Homo sapiens: one gene and its partners. Changing the gene in region 1 together with any one later gene gives a genetic interaction. Each region holds a gene or a part of one and is shown in the gene's direction. Other genes may lie near its edges.

Region 1 (3,500 bases):
TAAGTAATAAATATTTTAGGCTTTGTGGGTCCTGTAGTCTCTGTTGCAACCACTCAACTTGGCCATGGTAGCACAAAAGCAGCTAAAGACAATATGTAAATGATGGGTGTAGCTGTGTTCCAGTAAAACTTATAAAAAGTCCGTGGGCTGGATTTGGTCCAAGGGCTACAGATTGCACACCCCTGGTCTAGCCCAAGCATCTGTGCATGGTGGCTGGCTTCCCAAAAGTGGAAGCTGCTAAGCTGCCTTTTTTTTTTTTTTTTTTTTTTTTGAGAGGGAGTCTCACTGTGTTGCCTAGGCTGGAGTGCGGTGGTGTGATCTCGGCTCACTGCAACCTCCATCTCCCGGGTGCAGGCAATTCTCATGCCTCAACCTCCCAGGTAGCTGGGATTACGGGTGCCTACCACCACGCCTGGCTAATTTTTGTATTTTGGTAGAGACAGGGTTTCACCATGTTGGCCAGGCTGGTCTCAAACTCCTGACCTCAAGTGATCCACCCGTCTTGGCCTCCCAAAGTGCTGGGATTACAGATGTGAGCCACCGTGTCTGGCCGCTTGACAAGCTTCTTAAAGGCACTGCCCTGAACTGGCACAGTGTCACTTGTGTCACATTCTTTTGGTTGAAGAGAGTCTCAGAGATGGCACAGATTCAAAGGCAGGAGAAATAGACTCCAGCGCTTAAAGTAAGGAGTAGCATGTGCCTACAGAATTGGAGGAACTGTTGGAGGCCATCTTTGAAGAGAGACCACCACTATCCATGGCTTGGCACGTGGGAATCACTGCTCTATACCAGGGTTGCAGACTCATGTCTTTGGGGGCCAGGCAGTGAGTATAAATGAGTCAAGTGGGCCAGTTGGAAGATGGAGTCAGACCTGCAGTGAACTCCCAAACACATCTGCTACCGGGAGGGGCAGCATTACTCAGCTCCAGCTCAGCGTCATCAGGCAGGAAGGCGAGGCAGTGTTGCCGGATGTGCCAGTGTTTCAAAAGAAGCCAGAGACTCCATTTTTATTTTTTTGTATGGAATCTCCTGATTTTGAAATATTGGCAGATAATTCAAATTATCTTAAACACTACAGGCCAAACAAAACATATCTGTGGGCTAGAGACAGTCTGCCAGTTTGTAACTATTTCTCCAGATCATGAGTAAATTTGGCTTTACGATGGTCACTCAGTTCTTATTACTCTAGGTTGTTCAAATGAATTAAAAAAGCTGAAATTATATGAATAAACCCCTGGGCACACATGAAAGAAGTGAAAAACCCATTGTTTCCTATTGTAGAAACATGGAAGCATGTCAGAGCCAGAGGATCCAGAGGAAATATTCTCACTAGCCTCAGACCCTCAGGAGTGAGGGAGCTTTTCTTGTTAATGGCCACGCTTGTGCAGTTTTCCTTCCCAGGTGCTGGTGAAAGAAACCCACAGTCTTGGAATCATGGAAGTGATACCATAATGACTGTCAGTTGACGTTGCTTTAAAGAATGAAGCCACAGAATTGTGCTGTTAGCATGTCGTGAGCAGTTAGTTGAGTTGGTGGCTTGTAATTTACTCTGTGTGGATGTTATTGATCAAAGCTTTTCATTATTGACAGTGTCTCCATCTGCTGTTTGCTGTTTTTAGGGGAAACCACCCTTTATGACTCAACAGCAGATGTCTCCTCTTTCCCGAGAAGGGATATTAGATGCCCTCTTTGTTCTCTTTGAAGAATGCAGTCAGCCTGCTCTGATGAAGATTAAGCACGTGAGCAACTTTGTCCGGAAGTGTAAGTTTGGGGAACTTTTTCTTGAAAACTGTCCTGAGAGAGAAAAACTAGAAAGATGCTTGAGGCAGAATGAGTTACTGGTTGATAGTAGTCGGTAAGAACTCTGGTTCTATATAAGACAGATCCAGGTTCAAATTCAGGCTGCACCTCTTATAGCTGGGAGACCAGGTAAGTTGGGCTTCTTGGTTGCAAGCGACAAACTTAATTCAAAGACTGAATTTAGGCCAGGTGCAATGGCTCATACCTATAATCTCAGCCCTTTGGGAAGCTGAGGTGGGTGAATCGCTTGAGCCCAGGAGTTCAAGACCAGCTTGGGCAACATGGTGAAACCCCATCTCTACAAAAAATACAAAAATTAGCTGGGTATGGTGGCTTGCACCCGTGGTCCCAGCTGCTGAGGAGGCTGAGGTGGGAGGATCACTGGAGCCCGGGAGGTTGAGGCTCAATGAGCTGTGATTGTGCCATTGCACTCCAGTCTGGGTGACAGAGTGAGACCCTGTGTGAATAAAAGAGTGAATTTATTGGCTCATGAAACTGAGAAATCCAGGAATGAGTTAAGTTTTAGCTTTAGGCATAGCTAGTTCCAGAGACCTCAATAATATCCCGTGGCCCTGTCCTTATACTCACTCAGGGCTGACTTTCTATTAGGCAGAGTAGGCACGGTGCTTAGGATCTGTGATATTTAATTTTAATGAATTTAATTACTTTTAATTAACTGAATTAAATTTTAATTTGTTTTAAAATTATAGGAAAAATGAATATAATAATGTATAATGATTCTGGATTACATTCATCTTTATACTAATGTAGTCATAAAATATAATTTTTGTTTTTTTTGGAGACAGAGTCTTGCCCTATTACCCAGGCTGGATTGCAGTGGTATATCATGGCTCACTGCAGTTTCAACCTTCTAGGCTCAAGCAATCCTTCCACCCCAGTGGCTGGGACTACAGGCTCACACTACCACGCCCAGCTAATTTTTGCTTTTTTCTCTGTAGAGATAGGGTCTTACTATGTTACCCAGGCTGGTTTCAAACTCCAGGCTTGAAGCAGTCTTCCTGCCTCAGCCTCCCAAAGCTTTGGGATTACAGGTGTGAGCCACCATGCCTGGCCCCATAAAATATAATTTTTGAATTCTTTTTTGTTTTTAATGGAGGAAGGGGCTGAGGAAGGCAAAAGTACCTAGGGCCTATGAAGTCATATATTGGCCTTGCCTTCACCCTGTTTCTGACTTTGCTTGACTTCCATGTGATGAGGCAGTTGGCTGTTAGTGTCCCAGTTTCATACTCTTACATTAGTGTTTTTCAACCAGTGGGTGATTTGACGTTTTCGGTTGTCAGAGCTAGTTGGGGGTGGTGGTGTGTGAGTTTGGGGGGAAGGGTCCTACTGTCAGTTAATGGGTGAGGCCAGAGATGCCACCAAACACCTTACAGTGCACAAAGCAGCCCCCATAACACAGAATTATGTAGCCCACAATGCCAACAGTGCTGAATTTGAGAAACCCCACCTTGTACAACATTGCTGTGCAACCAACCACCCTAAATATTACTGACTTAAAACAATAGTCACTGTGGCTGGGCGCGGTGGCTCATGCGTGTAAGCCCAGCGCTTTGGGAGGCTGAGGCGGCGGATCACTTGAGGTCAGGAGTTCCAGACCAGCCTGGCCAACATGGTGAAACCTTGTCTCTACTAAAAATACAAGAATTAGCTGAATGTGGCAGCGGGCGCCTGTAATCCCA
Region 2 (3,500 bases), on another chromosome or scaffold:
CTTCCTTTCTCTGAGCTTTTTAATGACAGCTTGTATCATTCACCTTGGTATGTGATCCATACTGTTAGTGATTTACTGTTAATATATTTTCCCCTTCTCATTGAGATGATAACCCTTTTGAAGGCTGAAGTATAAAACATTTGTCTCCTCCATAATTCAGTGCTTGAAACCCATTGCTATTGAAATTTCTTACCTTTTAAATTTTGTTTTCCCCTTTAAGTTATCTTATTAGATACCTTATTCCCCTGGTTTTGTAAGTAAGGTAGAGTATGTTATTAATAAATAGAAAAGTATGAGTTACATATACAGTCAGCTCTCTATATCTTTGGATTCTGAATCCAGCAATCTCACATCCATGGATTCAACCAACCATGGATCGAAAATACTAGGAAAAAAACAACTAAAAATACAAATAAAAACCAATACAGTATAATAATTATTTACATAGCATTTACATTGTATTAAATGTTATATGCAATCTAGGGATGATATATAGGAAGATGTGCCTAGGTTATATGCAATAACTAATGCTACACCATTTTATATAAAGGACTTGAGCATCTGCGAATTTTGGTATCCAGTTTGGTCCTTGTTTCTGTCTGAAACTCTTTTTACTTGTTGCTTATTTCTTCACACTAGAATATCAGCTTCCTGAAAGTGGCACCCATGTCAGGTTTGTTCACTACAGTATTTCTAAGGGTCTAGAACAGTACCTCGTGTATAGAAGGCACTCAGATGTTGTGAATGAATGAATATACTCCTGTTGTGTGGAAATTTTCTTGAAAATCAATCATGAAGAAACTGGGTTAGTAAATGCTTGAGTGTTGGTGAGAAAAGAGCACACAGTTGAGGATAAGCTAGTTAGCTTTCTGGGCTTGTTCATATTTCTCCATCTTTTTATTTGTTGATTTCTTATCTGTTTGAAAAATCACTAATATTAATTGGACACCTATTATAAGACCCTGTACAGGGATGTTTGGTTAAATTTTGTGTTGTTTGGTTAAATTTTTTGTTAAATTTTAGATGTTGTGATCCTCACAACAGCTTTGGGGATAAATGTTATCACTACCTTACCTACCTGATGGTTATTCAAATCTAATGGAAAAATTTTGGTGGAAGTACTTTGTTTTTTATTTTGTTTTGTTTTGTTTTTGTTTTTTTTTTTGTTTTTGAGACAGAGTTTTGCTCTTGTTGCCCAGGCTGGAGTGCAATGGCATGATCTTGGCCCACTGCAACCTCTGCCTCCCAGGTTCAAGTGGATCTTGGCTCACTGCAACCTCCGCCTCCCAGGTTCAAGCGATTCTCGTGTCTCAGCCTCCCAAGTAGCTGGGATTACAGGCATGCGCCACCACGCCTGGCTAATTTTTTGTATTTATAGTAGAGACGGGGTTTCACCATGTTGGTCAGGATGGTCTCGAACTCCTGGTCTCAGGTGACCCACCCACCTTGGCCTCCCAAAATGTTGGGATTACAGGTGTGAGCCACCGCAGCAGGCTGGTGGGAATGCTTTGTGAGTTGAATCAAATACTTCGAATTTGTAATGCCAGGCTATCACATGTGTCACTGTAGATTTTTTGTGATACTCTTATGAATTTAAAGAGACTGGACAACAGCTTGTTTAAATTCCATTGAAATGGAAGCTCTTCTCTGAGATCCTGGTCTGAAGTATAATACAGTTTGGCCTTTTAATGTTTTAACAACAAAAAAAATTATATGACCCTTGGCCTCTTCTTCCAGTTTTCTGACTTGAGTGGTGCATACGTAAGTTGTTTGACATGTGAGATAATTTTTTCAGTCAGATAATTTGAAATCCTTTCAAGCACCAAAACTTGCACATTTTAGCTATTTTAATTATATGTGTTTCTGAAGTGTAATACATAATTTTCTGCTGCTTTAGTCAGAGAACATGGAACACAATCTAACCATGTTTTGATGGCATAGTATTATCATTAAGAACATGTTATTGGGCCGTGCTCCCGCCTGTAATCCCAGCACTTTGGCAGGCTGAGGTGGGCGGATCACCTGAGGTCAGGAGTTCGAGACCAACCTGGCCAACATGGCGAAACCCCATCTCTACTAAAAATACAAAAGAAATTAGCCGGGCATGATGGCGGATGCCTGTAATCCCAGTTACTCAGGAGGCTGAGGCAGGAGAACTGCTTGAACCTGGGAGGCAGAGGTTGCAGTGAGCCGAGATCACACCACTGCACTCCAACCTGGACGACAGGCAGAGACTCTGTCTCAAAAAAAACAAAAAAACAAAAAAACATGTTATTGAACCAGACAGGACAGTAGATCTGTCAAGAAATCCCTTCGGGTAGTCTGTTATTTCTATAATAAATGTCCCCTGTTGTTGAACTTTAGGTGCCTTGAGTGGTTTATGTTTCTAGTTGGTGCCTTTTTTGGTTGTTAAATTTATCTGTTTCTTATCCCCTTGCTTTTCAGGTTTTTTTTTGCTGTGAGTGAAAAACCAGTTATGCAGGATTATCTCTAACCTGAGTATTTGTGAGTGAGGATTAAATTCGTTATGCAGTCTGACATTTTGATTGCTTAGTTATATTTTTTGCTTAGGCAAGTAAGATGTTATTGCTTACAAATAGTAACTTTTTATAATAGAAAAATCATTTAGCGTACATTATTATATCTTGGTAGCTCCAGGAACTGGGCGGACTAGTATTATCTGGATTATACATGTGATTCTCCCACTCCAAGAAGCTGGGTGGCTTTTCAAAGACATAAAGTGAATATATCCTGGAGCTTGAATTCAGATCACATCTAGCCATCCTTGACTCATTTTCTTTTACATTTTATAGCAGCTTCATATACTTGAAGACCCCAGTAGTTATTCTGTGTTATGTGACAGGTACTGTTTTAAGTATTGTGTATTTATTATGGCATTGAAGCAATACAACAACTCTTTGATATAGGAACCATCATTATCCCTATTTTATCAATGGGGAGACGTGGGTACAAATAGTTTATGTGATTTGATTAATGTACAGATGGAGGAAATAGAAGTTAAGGTGTGTACAGAATAGTTAATCTAGTGCTTCTTGTTTGAGCATTGGGAAATATGTTTTTCAGAACTCAGGTGTCTTACAGACTTCTAACTTTAAAATGTATGAGAAAACATACATTAGAATCTTTACGTTTGATAATCAGTCATATTGTAGAAGATTTGTAGCTATAAGAAGTCAATTTAGTAAATATTCTGAAGTTTGGAAAAATGCAACCTTAAACTGCTGAGTTCACATATTAAGATACTGGGGATCAATAGTAAAGAAAATCAGCATATTAAGGAGCATTGGGAAGAGTACTGGTACGTGTCCCTAAGTAAGTTAGTTTACCTGCATTGGGTGGTAATTCTAAGTCCATCTGACTTTTCCTTTTTTTTTTTTCCTTTGAGACAGAGTCTTGCTCTGTCGACCGGGCTGGGGTGCAGTGGCCCGATCTTGGCTCACTGTGATCTCCACCTCCTAGGTTCAAGCGATTCTCGTGCC
Region 3 (3,500 bases), on another chromosome or scaffold:
ACCTTTAGAAAAAGGAACTGCTGTTAAATGTTGGGCTGTCATTTCAGTAGTTTGATGAATCCAGTTGTTTTAAGTGACCTCTACCGGTTCACTTACATGAATTCCAAAAACTTAATAGCAGATACACGCTGTGAATGATTTGCCCTTATTTCAGAACTTTGTTAAGATTGCGTTTTGGGGATGACTAGTATTAATTAACCAGTTTTTTTAAATCAGAAGTAAAGAGTAGAACTTGATACCAGTGTTGAAATTATTTGCAGGAAAATAAGACACAGGTATTTTGACCTGATATGAACTTAGTTATGAAGCAAATTTTTTTCCCCATATGATGCCATGAAAAGTTATAGTATTTAATTTATGATAATAATTTTAAGCTTTAGTATATCTGAGAACTACATGTGACTACTCCTTAAAAATCAATTTAAAATGTGATACAAGTGATTAGAAAATATTCCCTCCAGGTCTTTACTAGATAGTCATAAAAAGATTTGACTTATATATTACAAAGGAGAATTTTCATTTGTTCTTTGTGAATTTCTTCTCCTTTTCCTTTGAATCGTGAAGAAATGTTTGGAGACTCACAGGAAGAAAGTGGCAGTAGAGCTGCTTTACAACTGATACATTTTTTGAAGTAGAGATGGTTGTTTTACTGGCTTCTCATTTTTCACTGTCTCTCTCATTTTTTATTTAGAATTTTCTCCCAAACTGGTTGGCTTGACTGGCACGAGAGAAGAGGTCGATCAAGTGGCCAGAGCATACAGAGTGTATTACAGCCCTGGCCCCAAGGACGAAGATGAAGACTACATAGTGAGTAAATGTTCCAGTTTTAACCCATGGACCAGCTCCCAGATCCCAAATAGTCATAAGGCTTTCAATGACTGACTAGCTTCTGAGAAGAGAGAATACCTAAGATTATTGCAAAGTCCTTAGGAATTTTTTTTTTTTTTTTTTTGAGATGGAGTCTCATTCTGTCATCCAGGCTGGAGTGCAGTGGCACAATCTTCGCTCACTGCAACCTCCGCCTCCCAGATTCAAGCAATTCTCCTATGTCAGCCTCCCGAGTAGCTGGGATTACAGGTGCGCGCCACCACACCTGGCTACTTTTTTATATTTTTTGGTAGAGACGGGGTTTCACCACGTTGGCCAGGCTGGTCTCGAACTCCTGACCTTACCCGCCTCAGCCTCCCAAAGTACTGGGATTACAGACGTGAGCCACCGCATCCAGCCTCCTTAGGAATTTTGAATATTTGAAAGGATAATAGAAGCATGTTTTTTACTTTTTATTTATTTTCGAGACGGAGTCTCACTCCGTCAGCCAGGCTGGAGTGCAGTGGTGCGATCTTGGCTCACTTCGACCTCCGCCTCCCGGATTCAAGCAATTCTCCTCCCTCAGCCTCTCGCGTAGCTGGGATTACAGGCATGTGCTCCCACGCCTGGCTAGTTTTTGTATTTTTAGTAGAGAAGGAGTTTTGCCATGTTGGCCAGGCGAGGCCAGGGGGTCTCGAATTCCTGACCTCAGGTGGTCTGCCCTGCCCACCTCAGCCTCCCAAAGTGCTGGGATTACAGGCCTGAGCCACTGCGCCCAGCCAGAAGCAGTTTTTTAAAAGATGATTGTTTGATTTATATTCACTGTTCTCATAATTCAATTGCCTGTTTTTCTCTTATAGTGGCATATAGGATTTTAGGGCAGTTTAAAACCAGATACTTGGGTGCCATGTTGGAAATAAAGAGAAGCCATCATTTGGAACAACACTTATTTTAAAAAGATTGTGTTGGTTCTCACTGTGTCCCCAGTAGAGGTATCAGAAATTGCTCTTCTGGAGAACCAGTTTTAGGCCATGGAGAACTGCATTTTTAGGTTGAATGAGAATTCTGAAAAGCAAAAGATGAAAGGTTTATTTGCCCATTGACTATATGCCTTGGACAGTTAGGCGTTAAATATGTGCTTTTTAATGATAAGGAACAGAAATTCTGTTGTACTTGTGTAGCTCTTAAATTAACTATCTTCATATTCATCAGCACTGCCCCAGAAGCCTTAAGGTCATGCCCAAGTTACTGTGTTTCTTTTCTTGTCAGTGGTTTCACAGTGAAGCACCAAAAGGCATTAGCACCACCACTATCCACCAATTTTCCTCTCAATTTGGACATTTTTCTCCTATCATATGAAGAGTCGGCGTTGTATTTTAGCATTATTTCAGTATTTTTCTTAGTTGTCATACTCTGTTTTTTCTATAATATTGTTTGGGCAGAGTAATCCTAAGAGCCTTTCTAGCTGTGAAGCTGTCTTTGTAGAAAGAAAGATGGCCAAGACCCTGAGTCACTGATCCAGCAGCTCCCCATGGCCCATCCCAAGAGTTGAGATGCAGAGGGGATGGGATGTCTCACTGCAGTGCTTTGTCTCAACAGCCAACTATGATTTCTTTGTCCCTTTGAACCTGGAACGTGTGTGCCCCTGGAGCCTACAGCCTGAATTAAAAGCAAGGTTCTGGCCTGTTTGCCTTAATTAAGCCTACACAGTAATCCTGTCTTCCAGATGTGGTGCCTCGTAGAATTAGGGAAACTTGGATTCCTTGGAGTAAAAGATGAGAAAAATGAGCACTTTTCTTTAAGCCTTAATTGTAAGGAAAGTAGAGGGACCCTCCTCTGTTTTCCTCTTGCTGCTTCTCTAGCAGAATGAGAGAAGAGCAGAGAGCCACAGTGGCCAAAAGAGGAAACCATAGGAAAAGGACTTTCCGGACTTCTGTCTTTATAGAGAGTTGTATTAACTGGTTTTGAGTTTATCCGATGATGACAGCAGGAATAGATGAGCTCATCAGTCTGATTTCCAGCATTAAATGAGTTATATTAAATTGTTTAAATGTATACAGTCCTAAACTAGGTAACACTCCATAGTCTTGATGCTTAGAACTCATAACTCAGAGTCAGAAAGTCAAATCAGAAAGCAGTTGTACAAATAAACCCAAACAGCCTGCAAAACTTAAATTGAAAACATTCAGTTACATTGACAAGAGATTTTGCTGAAACCAAAGTGCTGCTCAGGGCAAGAAGGGAGGGGGTTTTGGTCAGACTGCTATCACATACCCAACTCTACTCAACTGCCCCTCTGCATTTTCTATTTAAAATACTTTGAAACCTTTAATCGTGTAGCCTGCCTTGCCTGGTTAGTGTTGATTTGGCAAGAATGTATCATATTCATGTCTGCCTGTAACAGCAGTGGGCAGCTAGGTGCCAGTGAGATCATGGAGCAAACACAAGCCTGGGCACTGAAATTTATACTCACAACACAGATAATCCAGAATATGGATATTAATGTTTTTAATTACAAATGAAAACAAAAATATGTAAGTCTTATGGAAACTTCTTGGACCTTGTAGAATGTATCTTTGGCCCCATTTTGAGAAATACTGGCCTACTGCCATAAGAATTTGACTTTTGATGAGATTCGATGAGGAATTCATGCTGTACATTTGCTAAATCATCCAATAGGGGGAGACATTCTT
Region 4 (3,500 bases), on another chromosome or scaffold:
ACTGGAACAAAGCAGGAGTTTTTTTTTTTCTCAAATGCCTTCTAACATTTTCATAAGTGAACATTCTCTGTTTTCACTGCAACCATTAGTCTCTTGGACTGGAGGAGTTTCTGGCTCTAATTCTTCCAAAATTACATTAGCAATTACAGGAGACTCACATTCTTGAAGGTGAAGTTTGTGCTACCCACAGAACACCCTCTAGCTTGAAAATCACTGTTAGGCTTGGAAATCTTGGAACACAGGACAGCCTAATATGCACCAACTTCTGTGTCTGTGCCACCTAGAAAATAAGGAGGGAGAAGCAAACCTTACAACCAGGCTAAGAAAGCTTCCTGACTGCAAGGGGTAAGCCACCCCTCCTTATAGAAACTCAGTCTCATGAGGAAACAGAGAAATCATTGAGGCCAAGCTCCTTGTTTCACAGATGTAGAAACTAAGGCTCAAGGAGAGGAAGGGATTTGCCCAAAGTGTGTCTGTGGCAGAGCTGGGGCTTACATCCTTATCTCCTGAGTACAGATTTTGTGTTCTTTCCACTACACTAGCTGGAATTGAAACTTGGGCTCTGAATAAGCCTGATTTGGAAGCTGCCCAAATCTGAAAGGAGATGGTTTTCCTGTTCAGCATCTTGAAATTGGCTAGATCTAGAAACGGGGCAGATCCAATCTTTTGCTGCTAAGTGCAGAGAAACCTCTAAAGCTCATGCCTCTAGGTCTTTAAGGCTACAGGGACTCTTCTGGGAGAGATGTTCTCTGGACCTTCCTTTCCTTCCTTTCTGAGGAAGAGACCCCACGATGACCCCATGGTTTCATTCCAAATGCAGATGTGGTTAGACATAGACAAATGGCCTCTTGAGTGGCATTGCCATGAGGATTGGGTTTCTTGGCCATGAGGCATTGTTCTTAAGGGAGGACCTGATAAATCAGGACAAGATTCTCCTGCCTAAGTGTCTGGGGAGCAAGAAGTCAGAGTCAGTAAGAAGGTTTTTAGTGAGACTAGAGAAGGTTGTATTTAAAACTAAGAAACTACCTCAGGTGAAGACATTGTGATGAAGTCTGGAAACAGGCTTCCATTCCTGAAACTTTCCATAAAATTGTGAGAAGGTGGTGAAGGAAGGAAGAAGACCTGTGCCTACATGTAGTCTTTGAGTGGAGCTGCACAGAGCAGAGGAAGTCAACAGGAAGAGCTGGAGGTTTTGGTTCAAGACCACAGTTATGACTCATTTAAGATAACTACATCCTGGTGGGAATGTTGAAAGGACTGGAATATGAAATAGGAGGGTCGAGATTGTTCTAGAAGGATAGCAAGGAGGAAAGGGGGAAGAGTTGGTGGGCATGATTAATAATACATTTGAGAATGGGACTTCTGAGGAAAGACTTTGGGAAGCTGGATTATTTAGCCTATAGAAATAGGGGTTGGTGGGTAACTTAATTTCTTTTCATATATAAGGATTATTATGTATATGTATATTCTTCTCTGTCTACACAAATAGAATAAGAGCTTAAACTGCCACAAGAGGGACATCATTTAATATACCAGAGAACTTCCTAACAGTGAGCAGTGAGGGGCAATAAACATTGGAACATGTTACTATGGAGTTTGCAGAATTTCCTTTCCCAGAGATCTTTTAAAATAGAGTTTACAGAGGTCAGCTGAGAGAGTGAAACTTGCTGCCTCCTCCTCAGCTCCCTCTACTCTCTGTCTCTGCTTCTTTCCTGTTTCTCAATATCTCTCTCTCTCCCTCCTCCTCTTTCCGTGCCCCTCTTCCTCCTTCTCCATTCCCCCATCTCCAAAACTCCTTCCCATTCCTCATTCCCGACTAGCACTGTCCCCATCCCAACCCCCATTTCCTGTACATCCTGACTCCTGGAGGAACCTTCCTGGAGCTGATACTGTTCCTAAGGCCAGGCTGTACGGCTTCCTCTTGTTATCGACATCAAGTCCACCAAACTGGGCAGTAAACATAAAAGCTCCACATTCTTCAACAATAGCCCTTTCTAAAAAGAACCACAAAGTGACCCATAGGTCTAATCACTTGGTAGAGAAATTCTCATCCTTTGGACTCAGCTGAAATGTAACCTCCTTTTTGAAACCTTCTCTGACCTCTTCAGCATTTGGTCCCTACCCACTAAGGTAGCACTTCTACTATCCCATGACTGTGTCTGTTTCCCCACAGACACAGACTGATCTCCTGGAGGGCCACTTATTTCTATATGCTCAAACCTAGCTTTGTAAATGCATATTCACAAAAGGGAGTGGGGGGAGGGGAGAGAAAGCATAAGACAGACGGAGACAGGGAGACAGAGATGTGTGATAAAGGTATCCAACTCTTTAGCAGGGCCTCCCAGAGAGCTGACTTTGTGTCCTCAGAAGTCTGTAGAACTCCTGACAGTACACTCATCACAGGAAATAACTACAAATGTAACACTGAGGCCAGGCGCGGTGGCTCACGCCTGTAATCCCAGCATTTTGGGAGGCTGAGGCAGGCAGATCACCCGAAGTCAGGAGTTTGAGACCAACCTGGCCGACATGGTGAAACCCCGTCTCTACTAAAAATACAAAAATTAGCAGGTCGCGGTGGCACGCGCCTGTAATCCCAGTTACTCCAGAGGCTGAGGCAGGAGAATCGCTTGAACCCGGGAGGTGGAGGTTGCAGTGAGCCGAGATCGTGCCACTGAACTCCAGCCTGGGCAACAGAGCAGGACTCCGTCTCAAAAAAAAAAGTAACACTGAATCCTATTTTTCAGGAAAGAAAGCAGGACCTCCTGGACCCAATGGCCCTCCAGGACCCCCAGGACCTCCAGGACCCCAGGGACCCCCAGGAATTCCAGGGATTCCTGGAATTCCAGGAACAACTGTTATGGGACCACCTGGTCCTCCAGGTCCTCCTGGTCCTCAAGGACCCCCTGGCCTCCAGGGACCTTCTGGTGAGTTCCCCTGTCTCTCCACCCCACCAGGTGCCTTTAAAGTACTTTAGGAGAGCAGGAGTGGGTGATCCTGAGAGCAGTTTCAAACGGTGGAGATGGGGTTGGTGTGCAATAAGGGATGCAGATCTCCTAGCCCAGTGTAAAACTAGGAATTGGACAAGCCAGTAGGGCCTGGCCTGCTCTAGCTTCTTATATCTACCAAACTGTCAAGGACAGGCCACCTGTTCTTGCCCCATCTCAACCCTTCTGTTACAAGCCCTCCCTGACTCTTGGCCTCCCTGTAGTGGACCAGTAAAACTCATATGAGCCAGAGACAGAGGCCCTGGTGGTTCACAGGAGTTCCAGTGGGGAATAGATGTAATCTTCTGTGATTCCCAGCATCTAGCTCCACATGCTGATGTTTGCATAGAAATAGGCTATGGAGTAGAAAGTTGAGGACTGAACAAAATGACAAGCCCTAGGATAGTTTCATCTTGTGAAGTCTGAAGTGCTTTTCCCATAGCAAGTAGTCACTAATGGTCAAGAAGTTAGAAACTTAAGAGTCACTCAGGCTGTGGATGAAGCAAACCCAGGCAC

The links. Genes that interact genetically often act in the same process or in processes that back each other up.
Region 2: changes in CIT (region 1) and EIF3H together harm fitness more than expected from each alone (negative genetic interaction), as found in Homo sapiens cells (one large-scale study listed by BioGRID).
Region 3: changes in CIT (region 1) and SCO1 together harm fitness more than expected from each alone (negative genetic interaction), as found in Homo sapiens cells (one large-scale study listed by BioGRID).
Region 4: changes in CIT (region 1) and EDA together harm fitness less than expected from each alone (positive genetic interaction), as found in Homo sapiens cells (one large-scale study listed by BioGRID).

Annotation. Positions count from the first base shown.
Region 1 is NC_000012.12:119,867,321-119,870,820, reverse strand, and holds part of CIT (citron Rho-interacting kinase), read left to right. Parts: intron 1-1,619; coding exon 1,620-1,761; intron 1,762-3,500. UniProt on the Homo sapiens protein: Plays a role in cytokinesis. Required for KIF14 localization to the central spindle and midbody. Putative RHO/RAC effector that binds to the GTP-bound forms of RHO and RAC1. It probably binds p21 with a tighter specificity in vivo.
Region 2 is NC_000008.11:116,745,824-116,749,323, reverse strand, and holds part of EIF3H (eukaryotic translation initiation factor 3 subunit H), read left to right. Parts: intron 1-2,197; exon of another isoform or gene 2,198-3,500.
Region 3 is NC_000017.11:10,684,034-10,687,533, reverse strand, and holds part of SCO1 (protein SCO1 homolog, mitochondrial), read left to right. Parts: intron 1-691; coding exon 692-807; intron 808-3,500. UniProt on the Homo sapiens protein: Copper metallochaperone essential for the maturation of cytochrome c oxidase subunit II (MT-CO2/COX2). Not required for the synthesis of MT-CO2/COX2 but plays a crucial role in stabilizing MT-CO2/COX2 during its subsequent maturation.
Region 4 is NC_000023.11:70,025,113-70,028,612, forward strand, and holds part of EDA (ectodysplasin-A), read left to right. Parts: intron 1-2,744; coding exon 2,745-2,924; intron 2,925-3,500. UniProt on the Homo sapiens protein: Cytokine which is involved in epithelial-mesenchymal signaling during morphogenesis of ectodermal organs. Functions as a ligand activating the DEATH-domain containing receptors EDAR and EDA2R. May also play a role in cell adhesion.